Linked DNA regions of Homo sapiens: regions 1, 2 and 3 are each linked to region 4. Evidence: fine-mapped expression QTL. A gene starts in region 4. Each other region holds a variant in brackets. All regions are shown on one strand. Distances are from middle to middle.

Region 1 (8,108 bases), 27 kb after region 4:
GAGAAGGTCCCCATCATTGGTGGCTGTTAAGCAGAGACAGCCCAAAAGTTAAACATTTAACCAGCAGGGGATTGGTAGGGTGTACCTCTGGAAGGGAATGCACTAGCAGCATGCTGCACTGGGTGTTTGACGTGGGTGCAGAAAATACTGGCCACAAGGGTGCATGGGATTGGATGACTATTGCCAAGCTACAGGGGTGGGCAAATGGTTTCCTTAAAGGACCAATAGCAAATATTTTAGGCTTTGCCATCCATAAGATTTCTGTGGCAGCAACTCAGCTCCACTGTTGTAATGCAAAAGCAACCATAGACAATATGAAAAACAAACAAAACTCTTTACAAAAGCAGGCCAAGGACCAAATTTGACACAAGGGCTGCAGTTTGCCGACTTTAATTTTACACAAAAGAAAAAGAATTAACAACTAAGGGTAAATAACGGACAGGCCGATGCCAGAGGTTCTCTTTGGTTGCATCCAAAGAAACTTTTTTTTTTTTCTAGCAGGAGAGAGAAGAAAGCCAAGGATGTAACAGAGTGAATTTTAAAGACAGTCAAATGACCAATCACGGCAGGTCTGCCAAGCTATGGTCATTGCTGTACAGCTGGTGGTTTTCTGAGAAAAAAAAAATCCAGATTGATAGAATTTGCTGATTTCCCACATTATTTGCATATTCCAAGCCACCATGGTGACCTCACTGAACACAGTTGGCGCCAGATGCTCAGAACTGGCTCTCACTGATGGCACAAGCCAGCTTCCTGCACATCATTGCTTCACTCACATCCCAGCCTTCCTGCCTTTGTCCATCTGTTCCCCACTGCCTTGGAAGCTCTTCCCCGTTGCTTTTCTCATAGCAGGCTCCTCCTCACTCTCCAGCTCTCAGCCAAACATCCCTTCCTCCAAGGAGCCCTCCCTGACTGACCAACCCAGCCAGATTCTCTCTCCAGCACTCTGTTGTTTTCCATCACAGCACTTTCCACAGTAAGCCAAGCCAATCTTTTTGTTTTTTAAGTGTGACATACATATATAAGAAAAGTGTAGGATCACAGTGGTACAGCTGGGTGAATTTTCACAGGGTGAACACACCTTCATAACCAGAACCCAGATTAAGTCATGGAGCAGGGCCAGCACCCGGAGCCCCCTTCACATATCCTCTCAGTCACTACCGCTCCTGAGAGTGGCTACTACCTTGAGTTCCAACATTGTAGATTACTCTTCCCTGGGTATGAGCTTTATGTAAATGGAATCCTACCATATGTACTCTTTGGTATCTGGCTCTTTTTCTCAACATTATAACCACATGGTTGAGCTTCCTCCACGTAGTTATGGTTTTGTTTGTTTCCATGACGTGAAGATACTGCCATTTATTTATTCTGTAGTTTGATGGCCATTTGAATCATTTCTGGTTTTGGCTGATAGTGCAAGTGCTACTGTGAATATTTCTATGTGTCTTTCAGTGAACGCATGCACACATTTCTGTTGGGTATATACCCAAGAAGCAGAAATGTTAAATCATGGAGTATATGTATGCTCAGTTTAGTCAATTCTGCTAGAGTTTTCACAATGGTTATATGTCAACACCTAACAGTAATGTAGGAGAGTTCCATTTGCTCCTTGTTCTTGTCAACACTTGGTGTTGTCTGCCTTTTCCATTTTAGTCATTCTCCTGGGTGTGTAACAGTATTGTTTTGGGTTTTTAATTTACCTTTTTATATTTATCTGAGGGTAATGACATTTAGCACATTTCATATGTCTATTGACCATTTAGATATTACCCTTTGTGGAATGCTTGTTGAGGTTGCCTGTCCATTTTTCCATTGGGCTGTTTGCCTTTTTTTTTTTTTTGAGACAGAGTCTCTCTCTGTCCCCCAGGCTGGAGTGCAGTGGCGTGATCTCGGCTCACTGCAAGCTCCACCTCCCAGGTTCATGCCATTCTCCTGCCTCAGCCTCCCAAGCAGCTGGGACTACAGGCACCGGCCACAACGCCCGGCTAATTTTTTGCATTTTTAGTAGAGATGGGGTTTCACCGTGTTAGCCAGGATGGTCTCGATGTTTGCCTTTTAAATTTACTTTTTGGCTGGGCGCGGTGGCTCATGCCTGTAATCCCAGCACTTTAGGAGGCCGAGGCAGGCGGATCACAAGGTCAGGAGATCAAGACCATCCTGGCTAACACGGTGAAACCCCGTCTCTACTAAAAATACAAAAAATTAGCCGGGCATGGTGGCAGGTGCCTGTAGTCCCAGCTACTTGGGAGGCTGAGGCAGGAGAATGGCGTGAGGCAGGAGAATGGCGTGAACCCGGGAGGCGGAGCTTGCAGTGAGCCGAGATCGCGCCACTGCACTCCAGCCTGGGCGACAGAGCGAGACTCTGTCTCAAAAAAAAAAAAAAAAAAAATACTAAAAATAAATAAATAAATAAATTTACTTTTTATACGAATTCTTATTAAATTCTGAGTATGAGTTTCATCGGATATATGTAACACAAATATCTTCTCCCACTGTGTGTCTTTCCTTTCCAATATTTTAATTACTTATAATGAAATGCAATTCATCATTTTTTTCAAGTTTTGTGCTTTTTTTCAGTTTAAGAAATCTTTGCATACTCAGGGGTGTATATATTTTCTCTTATGTTTTCCTCTAAAAGTTATATTGTTTTGCCTTTCATATTTAGAATGTGAACCATCTGGAATTGACTTTTGTGTATGTTATGAGCTAGGAGGCAAGATTATTTTTTTCTATGTGGATATCTAATTACGCTAGCAGCCTTTATTGAAAAAACATCCTTTCTTGACTTAATTACAGTGACACTTGTGTAACCATATACATGTGGTTCTCTTCAAGACCCTCTGTTCCATCAGTCTATTTGTTCATTCTTGTGCCAATACCACACTGTCTTAACTACTGTAGTTTTTTTACTAGGTCTTAAAATCTAGTAACATAAGTCCACCAAACTTTGTCTTATTCTTTAACATTATCCTAACTATCCTAGATATTTTGCATTTCCATATACATTTTAAAAATAATTTCTCAATTTCCACCCCTTCAACCCACTGGGGATTTTGATTGCAATTGTGCTGAATCTGTAGATCACTCAGAGGATGATTGACATCTTGAAAATATTGAGTCTTCCTATCATTAACACGGAATATCTTTCCATTTTTGTATGTTCTCTTTAATTTCTCCCAGTCATGTTTTCTAACTTTCAATGCAGAGGGATTGCACATCTTTTATTCGATTTATTTTCAGGTATTTGACATTTTTGGTGCTCTTACAAATGGTATTTTTAAAATTTCATCTTCCCAGTGCTTGTTGCTTAATATATAAAAATACAGATGAATACAATTAATTTTTACAGCTTAAGGTATAATTAAGCTGTAAAATAGAATACAATTAATTTTTACAGCTTAATTAATGTATAATTAAGGTACAAAAGAACTGCACATGACTGAAGTATACAGCTGGGGAATTTCGAGGAACATAACACACTATGAAACGTCACACAATCAAGATAATGCAGACGTGCATCATCCCCAGAGGTTTCCTTGTGCCACTTTGCT[G/A]TCCACACTCCTATCCCTTATGTTGCTTCATGTATCAATAGTTGTTGCTGAGTGTTCAGATATAACACAATTCACTTATCCATTCATGTGCTGATGAACATTTTAACTATTTCCACACTGGGGCTGTTAAAAATAAAGCAGCTATGAACATTCATGCATAAGACTTACAGTGGATATTTACTTTCATTTCTCTTGTCTTGGGTAAAAATACCTAGGAATGAGATGACTAGGGTCATAGAGGTATGTTTAACAGTTTAAGAAACTGCAATCTCTTTTCCAGAGTGACTATGTCGTTTTGCACTCTCACTAGCAGAGTGAAATTTCCAGTTGCCTCATATCCTTGCTAACATTTGGAGTGGTCAGTCTTAATTTTAGTCATTCTATTGGCTGCATAGTGATATCTATCTCATGGTGGTATGAAATTGCATTTCCCCAATGACTAATGATGTTGAGCACCTTTTCATACACTTATTTGCTACTAGAATATCTTTGGTGAAGTGTCAATTCAAACCTCTTGGCTATCTCTAATTGGGTTGTAGATGCAAGTCCTTTGTTGGATGTATATTTTGCTAATATTTTCTCCCAGTCTGTAGCATGCCTTTTCATTTTTCTAATAGTATCCATTGAGGAGCAACAGTTTTAAATTTTGAAAGAGTCCAATTAGCCTATTTTTTCCCCTTTATAGTGTGTGCCTTCTATGTCCTTTTAAATAAATCTTTGCCAAATCCAAGGTCACTAAGGTTTTCTTTCACCGTTTCTTCTAGTGATTTATAGTTTTAGCTTTTACATATAAGTCTATTATCCATTTTGAGTTAATGCCTATACATAGAGTAATATGGTAAGAACATGGGTTCAATTTTTGCTTTTGAATATTCAATTGTTCAAGGACTATATGTTGAAAAGATATCCTTTCCCCCATTGAACTTCCTTAGCACCTTCATTGAAAATCAATTGACCATACATCTGAGGGTCTATTTTTGGATTTTTCTCTTCTGTTCCATTGAAGTTGTATCTTTTGCCAATACCACACTGCCTCGATTACAGTGTGAGTCATAATAAGTCTTGAAATCAGATAGGCTAAGTCATCCAACTTTATTCTTTTTCAAAATTACTTTGGGTATTCTAGGTCCTCTGATTTCCATATGACTTTTATAATAAATTTGTCAAATTTCTCCAAAAAAATCCTTCTTGGGTTTTGACTGGGATAGATTATATCTTTAGAACAATTTGGGAAGAATTGGCATCTTAACAATATTTTGTTTTCCAGTTCATGAATATCATGTATTTCTCCATCTACTTAATTTGTCTCAGCAGTGTTTTGTAGTTTTTGATGTACACGACTTGTGTATCAGTTTTTTCAAATCTATCACAAAGTATTTCATATTTTTTGATGTTATTGTTAAGTTTTTTAAAAAAAATTTCAATTCCAAATTGTTTCTTGCTGGTATATAAAAGTATAATTAATTGTTGTATGTTAGCTTTGTATCCTGTAATCTTTTTAAACTCATTGATTAGTTCTAGTATTTTTTTGTATAGTCCTAAGGATTTTCTACAAAGATAGAATGTTGGCATGCAAATAAGTAGAGTTGTACTTCTTCCTTTTCAAACTGTACGTTTCTTTTTATTGCCTTTTTGTACTGGCTAGAACTTCCAGTATAAAGTGGAATAGAAATAGAGGGACTGCACATCCTTGCCCCTGTTCTGATCTTAGTGGGGAAATTAGTCTTTCGCCACTAAGTATGATGATGTTAGCTAGGTTTTTATAGATCATCTTTATCAAGTTGAAGAAGTTTCTTTCTATTCATAGTTTCTGTCATAAATGGTTGTTGAATTATGTCAATTTTTTAATTTCTTATTTTTTGCATCTATTGAGATGATTATATGCTTGCACTCTTTTTTGGTCTCTTTTAGTCTTTAAGTATGGTGAATTAATTTATTTTTAGTTGTAAAACCAACCTTACATTCTTGGAATAAACTTTACTTGGTCATAATCTTTTTATATATTATAGTTATGATTTATTAAAATTTTATACTTTTATAAGGATGTTTATGAAAGATACTAATCTGTAGTTTTTCTCCTCTTCCTCCTCCTTCTTTTTCTTCTTGTAATGTCTTCAATTTTGCTGTTGAGTTAATGCTGACCTCATGTAATTTTTTGGGAAGTGATCCTTTCTATTCAATTTTCTGGAAGAGTTTGTATAGAATTGGTATTATCTTTCTTAAATGCCTCATAGAATTTACCAGTAAAGCCATCTGGGTCTGGAGTTTTCTTTGTGGGAAGGATTTTAACTACAAATTCAAGTTATTTAATAGGCACAGGGCTATTTAGGATATAAATTTATTCTTCAGTAAGCTTTGGTAATTTGTGTCTTTCAAGAAATTTTCCACTTGATCTAAGTTGTTAAATGTATTGGTATATGATTGTATATAATATTCCTCTAATAACTTTACTATCAATAGGATCTGTAGTGATGTCCCCTCTCTCATTTCTGTATTAATTTATCTCTTCTCTTCTTTAATTTTTTTGATTAATCTGGCTTGAGGTTCATCACTTTTGTTGATCTTAAAAAGGGATTTTGATTGCCTTTATTATTTATTATTTTTCTGTTTTCTATTTCGTTGATCTTTTTAACTTTATCTTTTTTCTGTTTATTTTTTATTTGCATTTATGTTCTTATTCTAGGTTATTAAGCTAGAAGCTAGGTCATAGAACCTGTCTTCTTTTTTAAGTATAAATGTTATACTTATTATAAAATTAGCACATTAGTATAAATTTATTAGTATAAAATTTTATTTAAGCACTGTTTTAGCTGCAACTCACACATTTTGATATGTTGTGTTTTTATTTTCATTCAGTTCAAAATATTTTCTAATTTTCCTTGTAATTTCTCCTTTGACCCATAGCTTAATTAGAACTTTGTTGCTTAGTATTTTAATATTTTGGAATTTTCCATATTCTTTCCATATTGATTTATAATTTAATTCCATTGTGATTTAAGAATGTGATTTACATAATTTAAATTATTTTACATTTATTAATTTTTTGTATTGATTTTGTATCTAGTGACCTTGAAAATTTCACTTATTTATTCTAATTATTTGCTTTGGCCCTGAGGTTGGGAGCAAGGTTATGAACATCCTTACATTATTCCCAACCACAGGGGAAAAAGTACAATATTTCATTATTAAATGCAACATTTCATCATGTTAGGTGTGGATATCTTGTACACATGCATTATCTGTTTAAAGAAGTTCCTTTCTATTCCTAATGCTGAGAGATTTTTATCATGAATAGGTGTTAATTTTCTCAAGGGCTTTTTTTTCTAAATCTCTTGAGATTTTTTTCTGTTAGTATGGTAAAATACATTGATATTTGAATGTTAAGTCGCTCTTGCATTTTTAAATTAAACCTCACTCAGTTATGCTGTTATCCTTTTATATATATCACTGTATATAAATTTGCTAATATTTTGTTTCTGATTTTGCATCTGTATTCAAGATAAATATTGGCCTATAATGGTCTTTGCTGGTAATATCTTTGTCAGTTTTGGGTATCAGGTGTATGCTTGTCTCAAAATAAAAAGGCAGGAAATGTTCCCTCTTTGTTTTCTGGAAAAGACAATGTAAGATTGGCATTTTCTAAAGTGTAGGAAGAGTTGTCTTTAAAATAAAAAAAGAAAAAGAATATAGGACTGCTCAGATTCACTATTTCTGTTTTTGTTTCAGCAAGTTGTGTTTTTCAAGGGATGATGGCATAACATGCCCCTTTCAGCATGATAGCATGAACATCAGCTCCCTGTTAAGTTTCCTGAACCAGAGAGCTTGCTCTAGCTTATCAACACACAACTGTGGCCAATAGGCAAGTCCAGAAAAGTCATCTCAACATTTTGGGGGAAAATATTACAGGAGTGTGTGACAACATTTCACTTGTTGTTAAGCGTATGCTTAAAGGTTGTTGTTGGTTTCCAGCAGGGTGGGGATATATTTTAGAGTGCCTGAGGCATTCCTTTGCTAAGCCTATCTTCTGTGCTAAGATAGAATGGAAAATATAGGTTGCTAGAAGTCTCTCAACTTCCAAGGAAAACTGTTGTACATGTTCACACTACCAGGAGTGATCAGGAGAGTTGACCTTTTGGTTGGTAAAGAACCAGTCTAGAAATCACTTCCGCCAATCACCCCAAATACTCAGGCCAAGAATTTCCTGGGTGCTGTTAAAATAGTGCATGTCAGAAAATAATTCTCTAGGATCTGAGGGTGATGCTAGCAAGGTCAGGTTCAGAAACAAGTGCAGGCCAAGCCATGAGTCCCTCAGCTAAACTCACCTCCTAACAGAGGGCACTCTGCCCAGCAGCCTGCGCAACCCTCTCATTTAGGAAGCAGGGACTGTCCTAAGTTCTCAGGGTCACGGAGTGAGCCATCTTTGGCTGGAACAGGGCAAATGTCAGGGCAGCAATTTTACCCACTCATTGGTCCTGGGTCACTACTGAGGTATTAGGGCCTGCAGGTGACTTCTCGCCTGGTGGCCACAATCCTCCCTTTCCCTGCTGTGGTTTCTCC
Region 2 (8,108 bases), 110 kb before region 4:
TATGGTTTTATCAGATGGTCTTAATTTGGAGGTCATGGAGAACCTCTCCTAACCTGCAAGCCCAGCAGGGACAATGAGAAGAGGGGCACGCATAGAAGTCCCAGGCTGGTGCACATGGTGCCCAAAGGTGCCAATATCATCATGGGAGCCTCTTCTCAGAGATGCCCAGAAAAGCCTGCTTTGAACGTGAGACCACTCATAGGTAAATGCTGTAGGGGCCAGTAGCTGACGTTGTTGCTTCACCCAGAAGTTATTCTTAGGGATGGCCCAGGAGTCCATGTGCTCACCATGACAGATCAACCCAGCGTTCCCCTGGTGAGTGTGACTCCCCTCTGTGAATAACAGCCGCGGCCTTTAGCTGAGCACTTGCACATGAAGACACTGTGCTGAGGGCCTGATGAGAACTTCCATTAGATCCTCACCATGACCCGCTAGGAGGAAGCATAAACCGAGTGGCAGAGGGCACTAGACCTGACCCGGGTCACACAGCTGGTCACTTTTAGAGCTGGGAGTTGACGTCACACACCCACTTCACCCCGTGCGGCCCGAACCATGCCACTCACCTCTGTTAACATCACGAGGCCCAGAAAATAGGAGATAACAGACAAGGCTAGGATGAGCAGCTCCCGCCGGTAACCCCTCCGGAAAACCTTGGGGTACATGTCCACCACGGCGGTCACCAGGCTTTCCACACACACAAACTGGATGGGGAGATATGATGGTGTGAAACTCAAGGACAAGGCTGCTCCTGGTGGCCCAGGCTCTGGGCAAGCGCAGCAGGCCTGAACCCTGGGCTTCCTTCATTCCCACACCCATTAATGCAGACGAGGGGCCTGAGGATAACAGTCATCCCAGCACTAGCGGAGCTCCAGTCATGCCCATTTAACAGATGACGACGCTGAGGCTCAGAGGTGGGGAGTGACCTGCCCAGGATTATTCAGCAAGGACGTGGCAGTCAGGACTTGAGCTGGTGTCTCCAGACTCCAAATCTAGTACTCCTCCTTCTCCCGCATGCTGCCTGTCACATGCCTACATGCTGGGCTCTGTGCTGGGGTCGACAACTTAAATGAGACCAGCCCCTGCCCTTGAGGCAAGGCTGGGATTTCTGTGCCTGTAGTGGGAGTTACGTGCTCTGCTGATGGCAGGCTCTGGTCTGTCTCTGTGGTCTCCGGGGTTGGGACGCTTCCCTGCCCTTTCTTTCTGGCAGATGAGGCCCCTCTGCTGGTGGAGGGCAATCAGAGGTGAGCCAACTTCCAGCTCTTTGTCTCTGCTGGGTGTCTTTGGGCCCCAGCCAAACGATGCAGGCATCAGTGGCTGAGTCTGAGCCACTAAGCATCTGTATCCCGTGTGCTAAGCACAGGGCCAGGTACAAGGTATCTGCCCAGTTCCTACCCACCCATTAACAGCCAGCCTGAATATCCTAAGATACCGACCACCCCCTCACCTGGTTCTTATGGCACTGGGGGCAGATCTGCATGAACCTTTTCCTGATCACTCTTGTCCCCCACTCAGGACAGCCCATCCCTCTCCTCTGCGCCCTGAGCACACCCCTCACCCTGGGGGCCCTTTCCTGCTTATATCTGTCTCCTTACAAGCAGGTGGGATCCTGGAGGGAAGGGGCCACATCATTGTCATCTGTCTATTTCCTGTGTCTAGCTCAGGGCCCCTGGCACAGAGGAGGGAGAGGCTCAGGAAATGTTTGCTAAATTAATAATAATAACACGAATAATAGCAAACATATCATACCTGCGATGTGCCAGGCTGTTTTAGGCAGTTGGCATACATTAACTTATGTAGTCTCTACATGGTCTGTACTATTATTATTCCCATTTTGTAAATGAAGACACAGAAGCACAGAGGAGGGAGTAAGCAATTTACCCAAGGTCACCCAGGCGATAAGTGGCAAAGCCTGGATTTGAACGAGGTGATCTTGCTCCAGAGCTGGGCTTTACCCACCCCACTGCCCTGCCTTGAGGGAGGGAGGAGGAGTTAAGGGTTATTTTGCCAGCCACCTTTTTGGGAAGCACCCCTTCCCTGGAGCTATTTGTCGGCTCCAAATCCTTTCTGATTCACCTCTGCCTCCCCAGAAAAGGTGTTTCAATACTCCTTGTGCAGACAAAGGGAATGAGGCACAGAGAGGCGAGGTGACTAGCCCAAGGCACACAGCTGGCAAGTCATGGGGCTGGGACTCAAGCCCAGGCTATGGCCTCGCAGCTGCTCCGCCTCAGCAGCAAGGGCTGGCTCTGTCTATCCTTTCTCCAGGTCCTAGGGAAGAGGATGGGATGCAAAGGAGGTTGTTTATCCAGGATTGAAACTGATGAGACACTGCAGTGTGTAGGCCAAGAGGCAGACGGGCCCGGGTACACGACCGAGCAAGTCACTCAGTATCTCTGAACCTCAGTTTCTTCTTCTATAAAATGCAGACAATGAAAGGAGCCCCCAGCCCGTGTGGTTATTGTGACAATGAACTGAGAATATATCCAAGGCACACAGCAAGGGCAGCACGCATGGGGATAGGCAGAGTGGCCGCCACTTTTTGTGCCAGACCTCGGGCCCCCAGGCCCAACTGCTGGTTTAGCTCAGCCCAGGGACTCGCCGAGCCGGGGCCCCAGCCCCTGCCTCCCTCTGCCAGGCAGGCCTGGCCTGTCACGCATAAGCTGCCAATCCCTCCGAGACCTCTGCCCGCAACAGCAACAATAAGGGAAGATTATCAGCAGAAACACCCGGTGATTTGGCTTAGCAGCTTCTGGGAAACCGATCAGAGGAAGAAATTGAATTGGACTTGGCTGGCTTGACAGATATACTGGCTGTGGGGCTTGGGTGCCAAGTGACTCAACTGGCAGAAGGTCATGGGTGAGGGCGGCACTCCCACAGGCTGGGCTGGGTGTGTCTCCCTGGGGGTCTGACTGCTTTGCCTGCAGAGGCCCCTGCACAGCACAGCACTGGTTGGCCAAGAGACCCCAGTCTCCGAGGCGGGGAGGCTGTGGCTGGGGGAAGTTCTCCAGGGCTCCTAGGGAAAACAGCTGTGAGGACCAGCAGGCAAAGGGTGGGTTTCAGGGACTGTTGGGGGAATGGTCTGGGAAAGAGGCCGGGGACCTGGGATGGGAGTCTGGAGTGTGCTCAGTGCGGGAAGCGAGCGCCTGCGTGCTGTGTGGCAACAAAGGGAAACCGAGTGCATGGGTGAGTTACTAGCTCCAGGTCTACCCCCTTCGCCAGGGAAGGAGGCTGCCAAGCAGGGGGAGGTTGGCAAGGGGCCTCTAGGGAGGGCCGAGCACAGAGACAGGCAGGCGGTGGCGGGGCAGAGCTGGTGGTGGCATCCAGGACAGAGATGGAGGAAGAGGAGGTGCTTTTCTATGTGTCCGTGTCCTCAATGATTGGGTTGGGATGGGGACATGCATGCTGTGGAACTCACTCTCTGAGACTCTCTTCTGCTGTGCCAGGCAGTGCTGTTGGCAGGAGTGGTTGAGCAGAAGGGAAGTATTTAGCAAATTTTTCTAAATGTGAATTGAGAGTTGGGAATTCCGGTAAGGAAAACAGTGTTTGGGAAGGCTTAGAGGGGCCGGAACAGACATTTGTGGGTAAGTGTAGAGCCCACCTGGTGGATGGCGGGGGTGCAAGAGTTGCTGGGAGGGAAGTGGAGGGTGGAATGGGGGACGGTGGGCAGGGCCCTGATGCCAGGGCCAGGTGGGAGTGGCTGGGCCTGGGGAGCCACTCCTAAGGGTGGCGTCTGGCCTCCTGGCCCAGGCTCCCCTCCCTCCTGGGCTCCCCATCCCCATGGCCCCTTACCTGGCTGTCCAGGCCCAGGAAGATGAGCATCATGAAGAACAAGGTGGCCCACAGCGGGGAGAG[A/G]GGCATCATGGTGACCGCCTTGGGGTACGCAATAAAGGCCAGGCCGGGGCCTGGAGCGAGGGAGAGAGAGAAAGCCACTGGGTGGAGTCCCATCCCTCATATCATTGCTATTTTAATCCAGCATTTACTGAGTGCCTCCTCTGCGCCAGGCACTGTGCCTGCCTCTCACTCAAATCACTTCTGTTTCCCAGCCACCCCATGCGTTTGGTGCTATTCTGATGCCCATTTTGCAGATGAGCAAGTTGAGGCAGAAAGAGGTAAACAAGGGCCTTGGAAGGGTCAGGATTCAAGCCTAGGTTCAGCTGATCCATGGACCTTCCTCTGGACATGTCTCTACTGTTCTCAAGGGGGAAGGTGCAGTTTCTTGTTAAAATGCAGATTCTCAGGCCTACCCAGCGATTCTGACTCTGTCTGCCCAGGGGGAGGCAAGGACCAGGTACCCAGTGGTTGTGGTGTACGTAGGTCGGGTCCAGGCTGGAGAAATGCTCTTCCACCCTGGCAGCCTCTTCCTCTGGTTTCCACTCTCATTTCCAGGTCTACACTCCCTTGTTTTAGTTGCTGCACATAGAAGGCTGGGTTAACGTGTCCTCGGGATGAACTTTATCAATGTCAGCAGACAGATACCTGAGAGGCTAGCCCTGTGGCACAGTGGTCAACAGCACAGGCTCTGTAGCCAGGTGGCCTGGGCTCAAATCTGTTTTCTTAGCTGAAATATGGGGATAATAAAGTCCTATCTAAAAAAAGTGGTTTTGAGAATTCAGTGAGATGACACAATAAATGGAAAGCACTGAAGCAGGTAAATGCTTAATAGACATGAAATCTGATGATTTTTTACTTTAAAGAGCAGCTTCATTAAGGTATAATTTACATACATAGTTTGATGAAGTTTTAAAAAGTGTATACACCCAGATAACCACCACGACAATCAAGCCATGGCAATCAAGCTATAGAACACTGCCATTGGCCCCTTGAGGCCCCTTGCTGTCTCTTCGCCTCCGTTCCTCCTCTTCACGTTGGGCAACCATCAATTCAATTTTTTTTCGTCCTCGGACTAGTTTTGCCTATTCTACCTAGAAGTGGAATTGCTGGGTCATATGGCAATCATATGTTTAACGTTCTAAGAAATTCCAAACTGATTTTCAAAGTAGCTTTGCCATTTTACAGTCCTACCAGCAATGTTTCCAATTTCCAGTGGCTCCACATCCTTGTCAACACTTGATATTGTCAGTCTTTTAAGATGTGTCATTACAGTGGGAGTGAGATGTTATATCATAGTTTTCATTTGCATTTCCCTGATAGTTAATGACATCGAGTATCTTCACATGTTTATTGTCTATTCATATGTCTTCTTTTGTGAAGTGATGGCTTGATTTTTTGGTCCTTTTTTTTTCATTAGGTTGTTTTCTTTTTATTTGATTGTGAGCGTTCTTTATATGTTTAGGATGTAAATCCTTTGTCAGAGGAGTTATTACAAATATTTTCTCCCAGTCTGTGGCTTGCCTTTCCATTTTCTTAATGGCGTCTTGTGAAGAGCAGAAGTTAAAAACTTTCCAATTGTCTCCTGCTAGCATGTAAAGAAGTATAATATATTTTATCTATTTTGTCCTTTGACCTCTCTAAGTTCACTTATTACTTTTTTTGTAGGTTCCTTAGGATTTTTGACTCGGTCAGTATGTTTATCAAGAAAATTTTTATTCTTCCCTCTAATTATTTTTCTTGTTCTTGCCTTATTGCACTCTCTAGGAACTTCATTGCCATATGGTATAGAGGCAGAGACAGCATACATCCTTGCTTTGTTTCTGATTTTAGGGGAACACTTTCAATATTTAATAACTGGTAAATTAATATTGGTATAATACCATTAATTACGCCACAGAGCTTATTCATATTCTGCCAGTTTTTCTCCTTTTGCCCCCTTTTTTTCTGTTCCAACATTTAATTCAGAACTCCACATTGCGTTTATTGGTTGTATCTCTTTAGTCTTCTCCAGTCTGTGGCAGTCCCTTAGTCTTTTTTTGGTCTTTGCTAAACTCAACATTTTTGATGAGTTCTGGTTGTTGTTTTGCAGAATGTCTCTTGATGTGGGTTGGTCTGATGTTTCCTCATGACTTATGGTGAGGTTGTGCATCTTTTGGCTAGAAAACCACAGCAGTGATGTTATATCCTTTCTGGTGTATTATATCGGGGGTACATGTCAATCAATATTATTACTGGTGATGTTTACCTTGATCACTTAAGGTTAAGGTTAAACTGTTGTCTGCTAGGTTTCTCCACTATAACATTACTCTTTTTCTCTTTGTAATTGTTAACGCTCCTGCAGGAGGAAATATTTTGAGATTATGAAAAAATCCTGTTTCTACTCCAACTTTTACCTACTGATTTTAGTATCCATTGGTGGGTCTTGCCTGCAACCATGATTACAATGGTGTTTGCCTAATGGTGATTTGATATTTCCCTCATTCCTTCTATATTTATTAATTATAATTCTTCTCCAAGGAATAGCTGTCCTTTCACACCATTTATTTATTCAATTATTTATATATGTGAATGTGGACTCCTGAGTAGTTTATTCTATGGGTTAAAATCCAATACTATCATTTATTTTGCTGTTCAAGTTATTTCAGTTTTAACCATTGGGAGTTCCTTCAGGTTGATTTCCATGGCTTTTTGACAAGCCTCAAACCTTTCTTTCTGAGCACTTCCTTATTTTTTGGCATCACAAAAATGTTCTAGCTTCACCTTGTCTTGCCCTAGCCCGGAAATCAACTGTTTTGCCAAGGAGCCCTGTGTTTTTTTTTTTTTTAATTGAAGAATAGTGTTTAGAAACCAAGATCTGAGCCCTAGGTGTGCTCATAACTGTGGAGTATTATTGCTTTTAGGCCCTCTCAGCACACAAAGATAGGAAATATATGTATATTTATCCATGCATATACACATGAATATTTCTATATCTATCTGTACATAGATGAAAACCATGAATTTTAATATATTGATACTTCCAATTCCAATAAAAGACATTCTAGCATCTCTCCTTTCCTTATTTATAACTTCTTTCTCAGTGAAAAATCTGACTAATTATCTATAAAATATTTACCTATTTGTTCAATCCTAATATACACACTTACAACAGTTGTGGAATTGCTACCCCTGTACTAACTGGAGCACAGTATCGTTATTTTTGTCTTTAGCCTTAAAATATCCAGTCAAGATGCTGTTTCTCAAAGTTACATAGGTTAGTTTTTCCTTCCCCATTCCCTTTAGCATGGTGACAGTTTTCATTTGTAGTACAGTTAGGTTCATTTGTTACTGTTTGTATTCCATTTAGGGTTCCACCACAAAAAAATCATTGTTTGAGTGGTATGTGAAACATTACCAAGACTCAGAGCTAATAAAAAAAATGATATATTCAGGGAAGCACTGCTTCCTTCTCATTCTTCCTCCCTCATTCCCATTCCTCCCTTCTTTCCACCCCTTTTCCGACCACCCCTGAAGGTAACCATCCTTGTTTGTTTCTAGTTAATCCTTTCTGTATTTCTTTTGCACAAATGAGTAGACATATTTTCTCTTCTCCCCTTCTTTTTTCACATAATGGGTAGGATACTATAGATATCTGCTTTTTAAAAACTTTTACACACACACACCATTTCAAAAAGTACTCCTCAATTTCTATTTTCTTGATTATTTTATATTGTAAATGGGTGTCAAATCTTGTTAAAGGCTTTTTAAGCATTGATGAAGCTAATCTTATGTTTTTTTGTTAGATCTATTAACATGGTGCATTATATTAATGGGTCTCAATTTCATGAAATACATTGATGCTTGTTTTATGGCATAGTATATGGTCTATCTTGGTGAATGTTCCATGTCCACTGGAAAAGAATTGTGCTCTGCAGGCACTGAGTGCACTGTTTGATAAATATCAATGAAGTCATTGTGGTTGATAGTATTGTTCAGATCTCTATGTCTTTATTGACATTTCATATAATTGTTCTATCATTAGTTAAAGAGGGGTGTTAAAATCTCCAACTATGCTTGTGGATTTGTCTGTTTTCCCCTCCAGTTCTATCAGTTTTAGCTCCCTATATAACAAATCTCTGCTTTCAGGTACAAACTCATTAGGATTGTTATGTCTTCTCAATGAATTGCCCCTTTTATCAATATGAGGTGTTCCTCTTTATCTCTGCTAATATTTTTTGACTTGAAGTTTACTTTGTCCACACTAATAGTCAAGCCAGTTTTCTTATGTTTATTGTTTGAAT
Region 3 (8,108 bases), 57 kb before region 4:
CATCCCCCAACAAACGCTTCCCCCACAAGCTCCCCTAACAGGAGGTGGCTGGAAGCCACAGATCGCAGACTTGAAACTTCTTGCAAGCCTCATTTCCTATTTGGAAACTGTACTGATTCCATGTGTTCTGTGTTTTAACAGAAAAATGAGTGCCTGCTTGCCTGCTCAAATGTCTTTGATTAAGTTATTTCACACACTAGAATGACCTAGAGTCCTTTAAAAGATACTGACACCTGCAACCCACACCCAGAGAGTTCATTTTAATTGGTCTGGGTTATGCTCTGGGAATTAGGGTTTTCAAAAGCTCCCCAAGAGTTTCTGACGTGTAGCTGAGGTTGAGAACCACCAGGCTTGTGAGATGTTCTGTTTTTATCTGTTTAACGTATTCCAGGGCACACCACCATGTACCCACTAAGAGAACCTTAGGCACAATTACTGCCCACCATTCAGAACAACCAATGCCTTACCAAAGACAACTGATAGCTTAGCCAGTTTCTCCAACTCTTTTTTTACTACGAGCTACTCCCACAAAGAAAATCAATCATGAACAAAGACCCAGTTTCTCTCACCAAGATGCACTACTGCAGAGATCTGTGATTTGGGGCAGTAATTTTTTTTTAATTTTTAATTAACTTCTAACTGAAATTTAGTATTTGTTTCAATTTTAGATGCAGGCAATGAACTGCAGTCCTGTTAGCAATAGAAGATATTTTCATATCATGGTGTAGCTATCTTGAAATGTCACTTATGCTCATTGCTGCTTTAAAATCACAGTAGTCATCAGACTTGCTGCTGGATCTGGCTATGTAATGTCCTCGTTTTAAAATGTGCATCTATTACCATGTCACAAATTTGCCTTTTTAAAATGTTTTGGTAACGGTATTTCAAAATATTTGATTTCCTACGTATTAAATTTATGCATTTAAAATTATTCTGGGAAAGAGTCCACAGGCTTTCCACTGTTCAACCAGCTGTTGAATCTCAGTGGCCAGTGGCAGGGGCTCTGCAGAAGGCTTCCCAGTGGTGGTGGGTGATGCTGCACATTGAGCAAGCGACTCTTACCTGGGGGTCGGAGAGCCGGGAGAGGTCAGGGTACAAGTAGAACTTGATGCCCTCTGAGGCCCCGGGCAACGTGACCCCTCGTATCAGGAGGATCAGCAGCATGATGTAGGGGAATGTCGCAGTCACGTATACAACCTGTGCACAAGAGGAGAGGACAGAATCAAGAAGGGGGTGAGAGCAATGGGGTTACTTCACTCAGCACAATGTCCTTTGGGTGCATGTTGCACCAGGACCCTCTCTCCCAAGGCTGACCAGCATTCCCCCGCGTGTATAGACCACATTTGCTTGATCCATTCATCTGTACAAGCCAATCACAGAAGGACAAATACTGCATGACTCCACTCATGTGAGGTACCTAAAAGAGTCAAATTCATAGAATCAAAGAGTGGGATGGCAGTTGTGGGGAACTGGGAGGGGGGAAATGGGGCATCACTAATCAGGAGGTATACAGTTTCAGTAGTGAGATGTATCAGCTCTAGAGACCTGCTGGACAGTATTGCACCTACAGTCAACAACAATGCATTGGATACTTACAAATATGTTAAGAGGGCAGATCTCATGTTAAGTGTTCTTACCACAATAAATAAAATTAAAAAGGAAAAGGAAGCAGGGGTGATAGGAGTGGGCCACAGAGGGGGTAAAGGAAAGAAGGGCTTCCTGGTGCAGCAACAAGAAGTAACCCCTAACACGGCCTGTCCTCCTGCCTCATACCTCATCACAGGCTAGGTCTCTCAGTGCTGTCTACTGAGTGCCCGTGATGTGCTTGAGAGTGGTGCTTGTTGAATTTTTTTGACCACAACACAGAAAGAAATATACATCACAATCCAGCACACATAGAGCTGAAAAAGAAGTTTCACAACATAACACATGTGTGATACATGCTAATATTTTCTATTGTATTCTTTTTTTAAATAAGCTGGCCATGATCTTCTAAATCCACTTTAGAATTCACTGTTGGGTCAATACCCACATTTTTAAAGCCACAGCTCTTACTGAAAGTTAAGTATGCATAGTTAAAGAGAGACTAGGATAGCACAGGATAGTATAGGCTAGACTAACGTAGGATAGGATAGGATGGTATAGCATAGCATAGCATAGCATAGCGTAGCGTAGCGTAGCGTAGCATAGCATAGCGTAGCATAGCATAGGATAGCATAGCATAACATAGGATAGTGTAGCATAGCATAGCATAGGATAGCATAGAGTAGCATAGGATAACATAGCATAGGATAGGGTAGCATAGCATAGCAGAGCAGAGCATACTATAGGATAGGATAGGATAGGATAGCATAGGATAGGATAGGATAGGATAGGACAGGACAGGACAGGACAGGACAGGACAGGATAGCATGGGACGGGACGGGATAGGATAGGATAGGATAGGATAGGATAGGATAGGATAGGATGGGACGGGATAGGATAGGATAGGATAGGACGGGATAGATGGACAGGACAGGACAGGACAGGATAGGATAGGATAGCATGGCATAGGATAGGATAGGATAGGATAGCGTAGGGTAGGGTAGGGTAGGGTAGGGTAGGGTAGGATAGGATAGGATAGGACAGGATAGGATGGCATGGCATAGGATAGGATAGGATAGCATAGGGTAGGGTATGGTAGGGTAGGGTAGGATAGCATGCCATAGGATAGGATAGGATAGGATAGGATAGGATAGGATAGGATAGGATAGGATAGCATAGGATAGGATACAATAATGAAGGTGAGCATAGGGGAGGGAAAGGAAGAAAAGGGCAGAAATCTTTGGGGGCAGAAAAAACTCAGTGCCTGCCTGGAACCATTTGGGCTTGGTCCATTTGGAGGCAGGCGATTGGACCCAATGAACCCGAGAGACCCTTTTAGCTAGCAGATTCTGGATAAGAATCAAGACAGTGAAAGACACAAACCTCCTCTGAGCTTCCTCGCACAAGAGCGGCCTAGAAGGAGGCATCAAGGCCCGCAGGGACTGTAGGAGTTCCCGTCCCAGGGGCTGCTTGTGGCACCGGCCACACCCCTTAACTGAGGTCCCTGCAGGAGTCAGTGTCCTGCAAGTTCTGACTTTTCTCTTTTGTCACACTCACTCCTCCAATCACTTGGTTCTGTCCTCTCAGTGGGGCCTGCCTCCTCCGTCTGTTCAGATCAGCAACTTGTCAACATTTGGGGTCCAGGGACACTTCTGAGAATCTGAGGACCTTCCCTCCAAATGTGCTCAGATGCAGATACGCATGCAAGCTTTGGTTCAGAGACTCCAATTTCCCAGATAAAGAGTCTATGCCCTGAGACTTCCAGCTTTCTAAGTTAGCCTCTCGCTCCTGTTCAACCCAGGGTTTCTTTGACCAGTGCTTCAGTCCTCCACCCATTTGTTCATTCATGTATTCCTTTATTGACTCAGTTCATTCACCTACTCACTCACTCACTCAAACACTCTCATGTACTAAGAACTGAGCTAGGTCCTGGAAGGTAAAAATAAGACTGAATCACAGGAGGGAAATTTCTGCTTCAAGCGACTTCCAGTTGGTAGTAAAGAAAGACTTATAGACAGGAGGTCATGCCTCATGTCATCAGGGGAGCAAAAAGAATGGAAGAGCACAGACAGAGTGAGTCCCTCACTGCAAGAGCAGTCCAGAAGGGCTTCTCCAAAGAAGTGTCAGCCCATAAAGGATGATAAGGAATTCATTACTTGGAAAATGGGGATGGAAGGAAGACGGGAAAAAGACATCCTCACTCCATGCCCAGCCCTTTACACATGATAATAACAATGGCTGCATTTACTTAGCACTTCCACACATGAAACATTCAACAAGAATGAGTAGGCATGATTATCTTCTTTTTACACATGACAAAGGCCAGAGAAGTTACTCATAACTTGCCCAGGATTGCCCAGTGAATGAACGACAACCAGACATGGGGGTCATAGCAAGTCCTGCCTGACTCCAGGGTCACACATTCAACCACCAGGCTACCTATGTATGCAATCTGCAACCCTCACGACAGCCATGCAGACTCTGTGTTATTTT[T/C]CCATTTTAGAGATGAGATTTTCAGAAGAGTCAAGTCATTCCATTTGTAAATGACAAAGCAGAGATTTTAAACCCAGTCCTCAAAAATAGGAAATTAGAACCAGCAAAGGTTGGTGATAGTGGGTCCTGTGGACATAACCTGAAAGGCTGGACTATTTTATTCAGACAATGTCTCTGTTCTGCAATGATGGTAACCTCCCCAGCCCACTCATGGCCCCTGCACCACCAATTTCTGCATCCCTGTTTCCAAATCAACCATCAGCTCAATCGACATGTCAAGTAATCAACACAATCTCTTGCTATCATATGCAATGTAATCCAGAAAAGGTGCAGATCAAATATAAAAGAGCAGAAATCAATATTAATATTAATAAAAATAAGAGGCCAGTAATCAATAAGGCTTGATGGTTTCTGCAGAGAGCTAAAAGTGCTATAAAATCTCCAGTTTCACTTAGCTTTATACACAGCATCTATGATAGATCTTCGGCATTTCATATACATTCTTGATTCATTTCCTTCAAAATCACCCCCTCCCCCCCAACCAAAGCCAATCAGCTTAAGTCTATAAAACATCAGGTTGAGGCTAATAACCCATTGCTTTCATTTAGTAATTTCCACTTTTGTCTCTGTTGTGTGGCAGAAGATTAATTATCCAGAATGTCCAGGAGCTGAAGTGTTCCAGATACATAATATTTGGAACTCAGCTATCTTAATTCCCAATGCTTGCAAAATTTAAGGAAAAGAACCTTACCATGTAAAACATAAGAACAACTCAAAAATCATAAAAATTTGTCCTTCACCTGTGGGGCCACTTTGATGTGATTATGCTTGCTGGTTATGCTATGTCCAGTTTCCACTGGGTAGACTGAGCCAGTGGGGTGTCATTAAGAGGGTCACTTAAAACCTGGCCAAATGTAGCCTCACAGTTCCCAGGCACCATGTACAGAAGACTGCTCCTCAGTTACTACAGTGACATGGTTTATTATGTGGCTGATGATAATTTTGAAGCAATTCCATTGTTTAGAGTTCTGAATCGATGCTCTACTTCTACATTATATTTAGGAGAACTACATTCCCTCCACTGCTATTCACACCTTCATTTTTATACTTCTTTTATAAAACCATAAACCAAGGGAAAAGAAATCAAGGGAAATAAAATATTCAAATGAATTGCCCAAAGACCACAGTGCAGACAAAGAGTTAGGCTGCCAAAATGAAACCACTGGCTGGCAGGCATTAGCCCAGAAAAAATCATTTGTAAGCTGAGGTTTGAGAGCCTTGAGTCAGGGTACAAAAGGTGGCTTAGAGGCATCATTATGTAAGGCACACAAGTGGAGATTGGTATGAAGGTTGAAATTCAATGCTGAGGATAGCCTGTGTCTATAGCTCTTTTAAAGCCACTTTAAAAAGTGGCTCTGTAAAAGCTACTTCTAATCTGTTTCTACCCTTGGCCATGCCAGACACTTGGACATCATCTTTCACTTTTCCTGAGAACAGCTGTGCATTGTCAAAACCATACAGATTCTTGTCATCAAGAGACTGCACATAAGTGACACACATACTGCCACTCTTCCCTCTTGTGCCTTGCCAGACATCACTAATAGATCACAGCATTCTTTGCAGCTAAGCTTGGATGCAGCCTCAGAACCCTCCGCACAGCACTCCAGGCAGCCAGCCATAATCAGCTGGGATGAAACCCCTCTATCTGCTACCCTTGGTCTAGTCCATGTTTCATTTATGCTTTCTCAGACTCTCCTGCAGGTCAACAGAATGGTAAGACCTAGGTCTAGTCCTTGAGGAAGGAATTTATGCACATGAGCATCTAGGAATGAAACTCCTGGGATCATGACACCACACAATGAGGGTCACACAAGAAAAGGAGGCTATGGAGACAGGTTGGGAAGGTGCTTCCAGGGTCTCCGGGAAGGGATCCAGCCTTCTCCTGTCTGTGAACATGGGCTGGAGCTTGGTCCCCAAAGATAAGCAGGAATAGGAGAGGTTGGATCAGGCAGGGAAGATGTGGAACTAGCCAAGGACGCAGAAATAGGCAGAGGGTATTGTCTGCCCCCTCATATATTCAGGAACCTCCAGGTTGTCACTCAGGTATGCTCAGAGTTAGGTTCACCTCTCTTCTCAGCTTCCCCCACATTCAATCAGTGATCAAGTCTTGCCAACTAGATCTCCAACTACCTTCTGAAGTTACACCCCCTTTTTACCGCCATTGCTGGTGCCATTCATCACCTTTCTTCTTGGTCACTGACAGCCTATACTGTCCATACTGCAGCTGCAGTTACAAAAATAATAATCCTGCATGTCTCTTCCCTGTTCCTGAGTCTAACCTCCTCAGCCTCGCATTCAAGGTTGTGGGATATGATGAAAGGGTTGGGCTTAGAGTCGGATAACGCTGGTCCAGTCCTGGCTCTGCCTGGGCTTGCCGTGTGACTTGGCCAGTCTCCACCCTTCCCCAGACTACCAGGTTCCCTGCTATTGGGGAACGTGCCAGGCCTCTTAGGCCTCCTTGCCTTTTCTCAGTCTCTCTTTGTCCACAGAGTCCATCCCCAGCTCCTCGGCCACCCAAGACGTTTGTCCTGTGTGTGTCTGAGTCCCCACAGGCAGAGGATTCCTCCAAGTCAGGGCCCTGCCCTCCAGTTGAGAACTCATTGTCCTTTCTATCTTAAAGGTCTGGAAGACGAGGCTCAGAGTGGTCCATTTAAAATGTCTGTCTCGCTACAGAAGCCACCCTCTTAGCCTCATAAACCACACTGTCTGCCCAGATGTTGCTGAGAGGATGAATTGCCCCGTCCTCCCTGAGCCCCATCCCACATTCATCACCCCTGTCATTCCCGCATCCTCCCAGCACCTAAAGCTGCTCTCCATCAGCAATTTTCTTGCCTTGTAAGTTTAAGATTTTTACAATATAAGGGTTTGGTCTTTTATTTTCCCTGCTGCATCCACAGCACCCAGGACAGTGTATATAGCACATAAGGTGTGCTCAATACATATTTGTTGGACAGAGGAATAAAGAAGCAGGCTGAGATCTGGAACTCTGAGGTTACAATGCAGGTCATTAGGAACACTGCTTTGTGCTGCATCCATATGTGATGCTGGGTCCACATAAAAGGGGATTCAGAAAATTGAATCAGATTTTCAGAGGCATATTTATAAACAAGGACATCACAAAGGATTTGGCTTTAAAAGACAGACCAGGTCATATACAGAGGGCAGGACAGTTCAGGTGCAAGGTGCTTCCTAACAAAGTGTCCCTTTCAAGATGTCTGAGGCCCTAGAATTTGTCTGGAAGAGGCAAGAGGCCACAGCAGGGTTCAGGCATTATGCTGAACTATGCAGCATTTGGTGATGGGCCTAATAAGGTCTCTGACAAGGTACCATCAAGCCTGGCTGTTCCTGGCCACTGCCAGTAGTGGCCCAGACCCAGAAGGGTGGGCGTGGAGAAAGGAGGGTCTAATCTGTCAGAACCCTCAGTCCATGAAAGGAGGCATCACTGCCCAAAACACACCCCTTGGTTAAGAGTTTTCACTATTGTTTAATTCCCTTTTCACAGGTCAAGGCTTTCTGAATATAAAGGTTAGCACAATTGGTGGTAATTATACTGTATCCTGTTTTAATTGACGCTAATTGCTCATTTACATCCCAATACTGGGATTGTGGGGTGGTTTTCCCCCTACGCCCAGGACACGGCCATTTATTTCAGAGCAAGGAGATTGTCTGATCATTTGGAATGCCACAAACATTGTAGAAGGGCCACCCCACCCTAAGATTTCCAGGATAATGGAGTCAATTGGAAAGCCAAGTCTTGTTCAAAAGGCATCCAAAAAAGCAGGGCAGTGTGGGGCAAGAACCTAGGACCACAAAATCAGAAGATCCAATGTGCTGGGCAGCTGGGGCCAGTTCCATACCCTCTCTGGGCTGGCATTTACCATCTACGAAGAGGCAAGGATAGACTAATCCAAACTTCAATCATTCATAGCATCTTCCCAGTATTTTTTGGCCATATACACATAGCACCTTTG
Region 4 (8,108 bases):
AATAAAAAACACCACGTAGGGAATCAGGAATGCCCCTGTAAGGATGCAAAGGAATGAAATGAAAACTGTCCCTGCCGATTCATACTTGGCTCAAGAACTCTTTAATAAACATCTACTACAGGCCAGACATGATGTTCTTTGAACTTGAGTTCAAGTTCCCATTATGAAGACCAGAGTCAGAAAACAGCGCTAGGTTTCTGTAAGTCTACCTCACATCTCCAAGTCTCAACTTCTCCATCTGTAAAATGGAGCTTTAGTTTTTAATATCTGCACTGCTTCCCTCATAGAACTGTAATGCAGCTAAGATGATAATGTAAAAGAAATTGTTTCATTGGCTCATTTAAAAAAAATTTTTTACATTTCATCCTCCAGCGTGGGTCAAATTCATTCCCTCCCTGAATGTTGCACCCTTTTTCATTTTAAAGTGACCTCAACAGACCAGGTGAGGGGCACCCCTTCCTTTTACTTTGGAAGTGACTTGCAAACAATCTTTGTCATAAAGAAGAGCATTCTCAGGGAATTATACAATGAACAATATTAAGCCTCAAAGAATTAAGTACCCCTACACATGAGGCCCAGGTGTGGTGTCAACTTGCAAGGAGTTTGCAACAAGAATCTATCTAGCAAAGGCTGGCTTTGAATTGGTCCAGGAAAAGACCACCACTAAGCATTAGTGTTCCTGTCTTGAAACACAATACCCATTTCCTGGGCCTTTCTGTGAAAAAAATTAAATAACTGAGGTGAGCATGAACTATTACACCCAGAATGGGGATTTTTCCAAATCCCTCATTCTGTCCCTCCTGTCTAATAACGAAGCATGAAAACACATGCTATTTGCCACCATCTGATCTCACAAATGACGGCTTTAACTGAAAGTGCTTTTTGCCAAATGAAGTCTCCTTAACCGTAAGGATTAATAGCAACAATTTTGATGAATCCTGATAGCAGGATCATATCTATCAGGGTTTGAAAGGGTCTTAGCTTTTCTGGGCAAGCAGCTAATTTAAAGTTTCATATTGGGAAAGAAATACTTTATTGTTGGGATCTCAAAGGAGGGCAGTAAGGATGTTTTTAAAAAGGTAAACAGTTGAGAAGCAGATATCCCAACTACATTAGAAAGCAAAAAGTGTGGAAAAGGAGATAAGAGGATCTGTTTACTGAATCGAAATCTAAGTGATTAAAATCAGCTGCAGCAGGTCCCCTAACATGCTGTTATTTACCTGTGAAACCTCTAGAATCTAACGTATGACACTTTCAGAAAGCCTTTTGACCTGTGTATTCACAAAGCTACTAACCCTTAGGACAATAAACTCTACCAAACCAGGAGATCTATGAATCTCAAGAAAACTCTTGGCTAGTCAGAAAAAAAAAATGACTCATTTAAAAAACTTTACTCACTACAACCTTTTTTTTTAAAAAAAAAAAAAAAAATCTGTGACAGAATTTGTAATTAACCCAATTTACCGTGTTTTCTGCTTTTATGAATGCTTTTTGTTTTGGCACAACAATTTCCTGTATGGAAAAAAAAGATGTTAAAACAATTTGTGCCTGGGGACTACCCTAGGTGTGCACAGGTTTCCAAGTGGACGCAGCTTACAAACGCTGTATCTGCAGAGAGGCAGGATTCACAGCCGAGAGCACAGGGCACGTTGGGGGTCTCCAAGTCCACTCCCTCTCTCTCCCTTGCCAAGCCGCCAACACCAGCGGCCACTTCATTACCAGTGCAGAGCAGGCTTGGAGCAGCCTGTGCCTTCAGGATGAATGTCCCCAAAGAAAGGGCCTGGGCCAAGCAGTACCCTTCTCCCTCTCCCGGCAGCTGCTCGCACAGGAAGTCCTGCTCTGCACAGACTCATAGCCCGGTCCCTGCCAGCCAACTTCTGAGCCACCTTCGCTGGGGTTTGGGAATTTGCTGGAGGGGCAGGGGCACAGCAAAGAGAAGAGAGAATATACAGATACAGGCTCTTCCTTCGAGAAATTGTGCCACCGAAGGAGGTTTTATAAGATCCCTTGCCATGGACCCGCCCAGCTGTCCTGCCGATATGACAGGAGGGGGTCCTGAAGGCTGGAGCCCCTTCCCTGAGCTGGGAGAGTTACGGATTCGCTGCTGCATCTTTTGCCAAACTGACTTTGAGAGGCTGTCACCAGAAAGGACTCTCTCATCACTGTCCTTTCCCTCTCCCCTTCTACATCTCTATGCAGAGCATCAACATTAAACCAGTATTGCTGTTTGTCGTGGGTGACTCTCAGACCCGTAAAATAAACTGTTCGTTGTCAATTCTTCCACCAGAGGGGCCCCAAATATTGGCCCTAGAAATGGGCTTAAGAGCAGACGAAAGACTAGGCAGGAAACCATAGAGCAATGCCTCGCCTAAAAGTTCTCCCTGTTGTGAGTCCAGTCCCAGTTTAAAATAGGGCCTTTGACATCAGAATCTCATCTTTATTTTTGGTCGAGTGAGACTTCTCTGACCCTCAGTGTCCTCACCTGCAAAATGGGTAGACCCCTGCCTACGAAAGTGACTGAGAGGATGAGATGAGATGATATGGTCAAAGGTGCTCGGCACTTCAGTAAGCGCGCAAAAACTGAGACCACTTTGATCATCAGGAGTCCCTTCCCCACAGGCCGTTTTCCCAGTTAGGAAAGCTGAGGCTCCAAGGGGCCAAGTGCCCGAAACACCAGGGCGCCTACCCAAAGCAAGGGCTCCCTGGCCTCGGTCTGCATCTCATGCTGGGGACAGAACGCGGGCAAGTCCCCGCGCTGGCAGGTGGAACCCTCAGGTGCGAATTGGCACGTGCGCGTGCGCACTGGCACAGGTGGGCCGCGCTCCGGGGCGAGCTCACACGCGAGGTGCCTGGAGTCGAGGTTCTCCGCTCGGGTTCCGCTCCACGCAGGCGCGGGAGGGGGTCTCGCGCTCGCCCCTGGCTCCCCGCCCCCACCGGGCGGTTGGCGCCCCCTCCCCTTCTCCTCACTATCACCTCACCTCCTCCGTTCTTGTAGCACAGGTAGGGGAAGCGCCACACGTTGCCCAGCCCAATGATCTCCCCGGCCACGCTCAGCACGAACTCCACCTTGTTGTTCCAGTGGCCGCGCTCGTGGACCGCCTTGTCGCGCTTGACGCGCGGGTGGCGCGCGGGCGCCGCGCCCCCGCTGCTGCAGCCGCCACCCGGCGCCTCGGACTCCCGCGCCTCCTCAGCAGCCTTCCCATTGCCCAGGGGCAGCGCCTTCTCCGCCGTCATGGCCGCGCTGGCTGCCTCGTGCGCCGGCCCGGCTCTGCGCCGCCGCCCCGGGCGAGCTGGCTTTTCAGGAGGCGCGAGCGGGCGGGAGGGGGAGGCAGGGGGTGGAGCTGAGGGACCGGGCCAGACCAGCGCGGAGACTGGGACTGGGACGCGCCGCGGAGGCCCGGCCCGCAGGGCGCCCACGCCACCTCAGCCCGGCTGGGCCCGGGAGCCCGCGAGCACCTTGAGCGCGCGGAGCCCCTGCAGCGCCCGTCCTTCCCGCGGCCCTGCCCACTGGCCTGCTGGGCCAAGAGTGGAAGCGCCCATTCCGGCCTAGGCCGGCTCCACTCACCAAACCCCAAAGTTCTACCACCGTCCATAACCTTCAAATGCTTGGGCCTCGGTTTCCTGTTTCTAATAAGAGGAATGGGCTCTAGACCAGACTTCTCCAACTTGAACTACACACCAGACACCTGCGGGTCTTGTTTAAACTACACATCACGGTCTAGTAGGTCGCAGTAGGCTGAAGAGCCTGCGTGTCTGACTACCTCCCCAGGGACGCTGATATGTCTGGTCCAGGGACCACACCTTGAGGAAAAGGCAGTAAATGAATTCGTGGCTTCTTCCCAGCCCTAGACACTCTGCAGGTCTTGTTCATACTGGTGTCCGCAGCTCTCAACATAGTCAGGACCGTGTGGCAGTTAAGTGCTTGCGTCTGGAAACAGGTGAATCTAAGTTGTGTGATTTTGGCCAGTCATCTGATCCCTCTGTGCCTCAGTTTCCTGATCTGCAAAAGGTAATATCAGTAGTATCTTGTAAGTTTTAATGTAGGGGATGGATTTTTAGGTAAAAGGTTATTAAGAAATGCTTATAAAGGTCTTGATACCTTGAAAGTGCCCAATGAACATTACCCATTGTTAGTATTATACAATATGTAGACCTACACACATTTGTCCATCTTCTTGTATAATATTTGTCTCCTCACTTAGTTGTAAGGATGATATACACTGTCCTGTTCATTATAATAGCAACATAACCTAGCACAAGACTTGGTGCATAGTATGTGCTCAATAAATGTTTGTGGCTAGAGAGGAAGGGAGGAAGGTAGGAAGAGGAAAAGGGGAAGAAGGAAAGACTATTAAGCTGCTGGGGGCCACAGAGATGAACACTTCCACCTCTTCCATTGCACAGGCCTGGAAAAGTCCAGCCACATTGAGCCCCCACCAACCCTACTCTCCATCTGTCCCTCGGAGCTCCCTCTGGAGCTCTCTTAGGGACAGGCTCCTTGCTTTGAAGCCTTCAAACTCCTGCCTTCCGCTTCTCCTTTCATTCTGGCTCACAACTGCTCAAGTCGCTCCCAACCTCCATCTCCCCAGAAAGCCCTTCCTTCCACCATCTTCCCGTTTCCCCTCCCCCCACTATCATATTTCTTGAAAGAGTAAGTTGACAGGCTGCCAGCCCTGTCTTTACCTCCCACACGTTCCTTGGCCCACAGCAATCTGGCACCCACCCCCACCACTCCTCTGAAAATGCTGTGAAGTCCCGGACGCCCTCTCAATTTGGCAAATTCTACGGTTCCTTTTCCATCCCTATCCTGCCTGGCCTCTAGGTAACTTTCTGCACCATTGCTCCCTCCTTTGCTTCTTAAAATTCCCACTGGTGTGGTTTTCTTGGCATTGCCTGGCGCAGCTACCATTTCTCTCCCTGCTTCTCTGGTTCTCCTTTCTCTCTCCTTAAATTCAGCCTTTCTCATATCTTGAACCACTGAACTAAATGTGGGTGCCTCCCAAACCTCTGTCCCCATGTGCTGCCTAGGTTATGTTTAAAAGCAAAGATCCTGCGGTGTTCAGGGTGAGACTATACTGAATTCAGATGGATGTGGCTTTGCATTCAAGCTCTGCCCCTTAGGTGCTCTGTTACCTCTTTGCCTCATGCTTCTCACCTGTTAAGTGGGCTTCACATGAGTTCTGACCTCACAGGGTGGGTGTGTGGGTTAAAAGCCTCAGTAGGAGCTCTGTGAACAGTAGCTATTATTGTTGTTTATTATTATTTTTTAAAAGATGGAGTCTCACTCTGTCACCCAGGCTGGAGGTGCAATGGCACAATCTTGGCTCACTGCAACCTCCACCTCCCAGGTTCAAGCGATTCTCCAGCCTCAGCCTCCCGAGTAGCTGGGATTACAGGTGCCCACCACCACACCCAGCTAATTTTTGTATTTTTAGTAGAGATGGGGTTTCACCATGTTGGCCAGGCTGGTCTTGAACTCCTGACCTCAGGTGATCTGCCCGCCTCAGCTTCCCAAAGTGCTAGGATTACAAGCGTGAGCCACCACACCTGGCCAGTAGCTATTGTTTTTATTGTGAGGAGGAGGAGGATGGTTAGTTCATTCCCTTGCTTAAAAGCCCTAATGGGAGGCCAACAACCTGGCCAGTAGCTATTGTTTTTATTGTGAGGAGGAGGAGGATGGTTAGTTCATTCCCTTGCTTAAAAGCCCTAATGGGAGGCCAACATAGCAAGACCCTATCTTTAAAATTAAAAAAAAAAAAATACTTAGCCAGACGTGGTAGTGCACACCTACAGTCCCAACTACTCAGGAGGCTGAGGCAGGAGGATGGTATAAGCTTGAACTCCCCCAGGAGTTCTAAGCTGCAGTGAGCCATGATCATGTCACTGCATTCCAATCTGGACTATGGCACAAGACCTTGACTGCAAAAACAAACAAAAAAACCTTCATTGGACTTCCTTTTCCTACAGGATAAAACCAAATTCCTGGCCCTAATATTCAAAATTCCCCCTCAATCAAATTGTCCCAGCCTTTCCTTCTACCATTTTTGAATGCCATTTTTCTCCCACACTAAGACTTCGTTATTTTTATTTTCTTTTTGATGATCCTCAATGCTGTGTATAGAATGGGCAATAAAGGAAGGAATTTTTCTTTGACCTCAATGATCTTACACAGAGTAGGCACATAAGTAGCTAGGAGTCTATTTGTTAAACGAACAAGTACATCAAAAGTTAGACATATTCCTGGCCAGGCATGGTGGCTCACGCCTGTAATCCCAGCACTTTGGGAGGCCAAGGCAGGCGGATCACGAGGTCAGGAGATCAAGACCATCCTGGCTAACACGGTGAAACCCCATCTCTACTAAAAATATAAAAAATTAGCTGGGCGTGGTGGCAGGCACCTGTAGTCCCAGCTACTTGGGAGGCTGAGGCAGGAGAATGGCGTGAACCCAGGAGGCAGAGCTTGCAGTGAGCCGAGATCATGCCACTGCACTCCAGCCTGGGCTACAGAGCGAGACTCCGTCTCAAAAAAAAAAAAAAAGTTAGACATATTCCTGAATCTTACTATTGCAATATTAGGCTGTCACTCCAGAATCTGTGCAAAGCTCCTTTGAAACTAATTACATTTTCGCTTTGTGCTGGTGCTCAGCATAATTAGCTCCAGGAATTGACTTCCTCTGAGCAGCTGTGATTCTACCAGACCTGCTTGGGAAGTAACACTGAACCAGCATGAGAGGGCTGAAGCTGGCCATCATCTGGTCTGGGACCCAGGCCCAGTTCTGCTGATGGATGGTTCTGTGGTGTTGGATACATCGCCCAATCTCTAAGCTCTGGTGTCCTCGTTTCACTCAAATGAGCACAATTATTCCCATGTTCCAGGGTGGTCATCAAGGCAAAATGAGATCACACTCAGGGAAGAACGTTGTACAAATACTGATGTTGCAAACTCACCTCTCAGGTTTGAATGGTTCCCTTTGTAAAAGTTAGCCAGGTCAATTTCCTATTTGAATTTAGTAAGTAAATATTTAAAGTCCATCTCCTTGGTTATTTTATGGCCCTTAAAAAGCCTTGATCTTTTTACTCTGTCCTTATCCAGAAGAGCCCACATCCACTTCATCATTGCAGGACCTCATCTCTAGACCTTTGCCACTTCATCATTTCTTTGTTGAGGGACAGTGGGCTGAAGAGCACACACTGTCTGTGGGGTCGATATACAGGGATTGGGACACAAATGGGACACACATCTTATCCCCAGGGCTGGCCCTGATGCAACAGAGCACAGTGGGTAAGAATGTTGGTTCTGCAGTCACACTGCCTGGTTTCAAAGCCAACTCCAAATGACCTTGGAAAATGACTTCATGTCTCTGAGTTTTCATTTCCTTATCTGTAAAATCAGGGTAGTAGTAGTATCTACCTTTTAGTTGTCATGAGGATTAAGTGGGTTAGTATTTGTAAAGCACTTGGATTTGTGCCTGATATAGACATGTTTGTTATAAGCAGTCTTCAGGGGACAGAAATGTCATAACTCCCTTATTCCTTTCTTGGGGCAAGCACTCAATGTCTTCCATCTTCTGGAAACAGCAGCTGCTGTCCTGAGGCTCATTTAAACTTCAGCATTGCTCATTCATTCATTCATTCACCAAATGCTTTGGTTCTTTTTTTTTTTTTTTTTTTTTTTTTTTTTTTTTTTTTTTTTTTTTTGGATTTTCAGTAAAGATGGGGTTTTACCATGTTGGCCAGGCTGGTCTCAAACTCCTGACCTCAAGTGATCTGCCTGCCTTGGCCTCCCAAAGTGCTGGAATTACAGGCGTGATCTACCATGCCCGGCCTTGCTTTGGCTCTTTAATTATTTTCCAGATGCAATATCAGTCACTAGGGAGCAATACCAAGTATAAGGCCCACCTCAATGGTATGCTAGAGCTGGCTCAGACTAGCTCATGACAGCTGATTATTGCGTTTTCAGGGATTTTGCATGGCGCCATTGTTGGTGTCTTGAAATCTTCCACGGTGGTTGTATTTACACTGTGGGAATTTGCAAGTGCCACAGATCAGCCCTATGCACCCCAGCCAGTGTGCAAGCCCCATTGCAGGATGGCGGCAGAGGTAGAAGT

Evidence for each region. PIP is the estimated chance that this variant, and not a neighbour inherited with it, causes the effect.
Region 1: its variant is the best candidate, but not a certain one, in a credible set for the expression of SLC6A11 in unexposed skin (GTEx, PIP 0.81).
Region 2: its variant is the best candidate, but not a certain one, in a credible set for the expression of SLC6A11 in esophagus mucosa (GTEx, PIP 0.67).
Region 3: its variant is the best candidate, but not a certain one, in a credible set for the expression of SLC6A11 in uterus (GTEx, PIP 0.80).

The regions. Positions count from the first base shown.
Region 1 is chr3:10,784,425-10,792,532 of GRCh38, reverse strand. No RefSeq gene overlaps it. Among named protein-coding and RNA genes, the nearest start is that of LINC00606, 24 kb to the right of the region's middle. The variant G/A (reference allele first, on the strand shown) is at 3,552.
Region 2 is chr3:10,921,795-10,929,902 of GRCh38, reverse strand. It overlaps SLC6A11 (solute carrier family 6 member 11), which reads right to left. Exons shown (of 14, transcript NM_014229.3): 9 at 3,787-3,899; 10 at 564-701. It overlaps LOC105376950 (a long non-coding RNA gene), which reads left to right and starts at 1,178. Exons shown (of 3, transcript XR_940587.3): 1 at 1,178-3,046. The variant A/G (reference allele first, on the strand shown) is at 3,850.
Region 3 is chr3:10,868,050-10,876,157 of GRCh38, reverse strand. It overlaps SLC6A11 (solute carrier family 6 member 11), which reads right to left. Exons shown (of 14, transcript NM_014229.3): 6 at 1,063-1,197. Among named protein-coding and RNA genes, the nearest start is that of SLC6A11, 56 kb to the right of the region's middle. The variant T/C (reference allele first, on the strand shown) is at 4,078.
Region 4 is chr3:10,811,392-10,819,499 of GRCh38, reverse strand. It overlaps SLC6A11 (solute carrier family 6 member 11), which reads right to left and starts at 3,272. Exons shown (of 14, transcript NM_014229.3): 1 at 2,979-3,272; 2 at 1-35. The coding sequence starts at 3,234.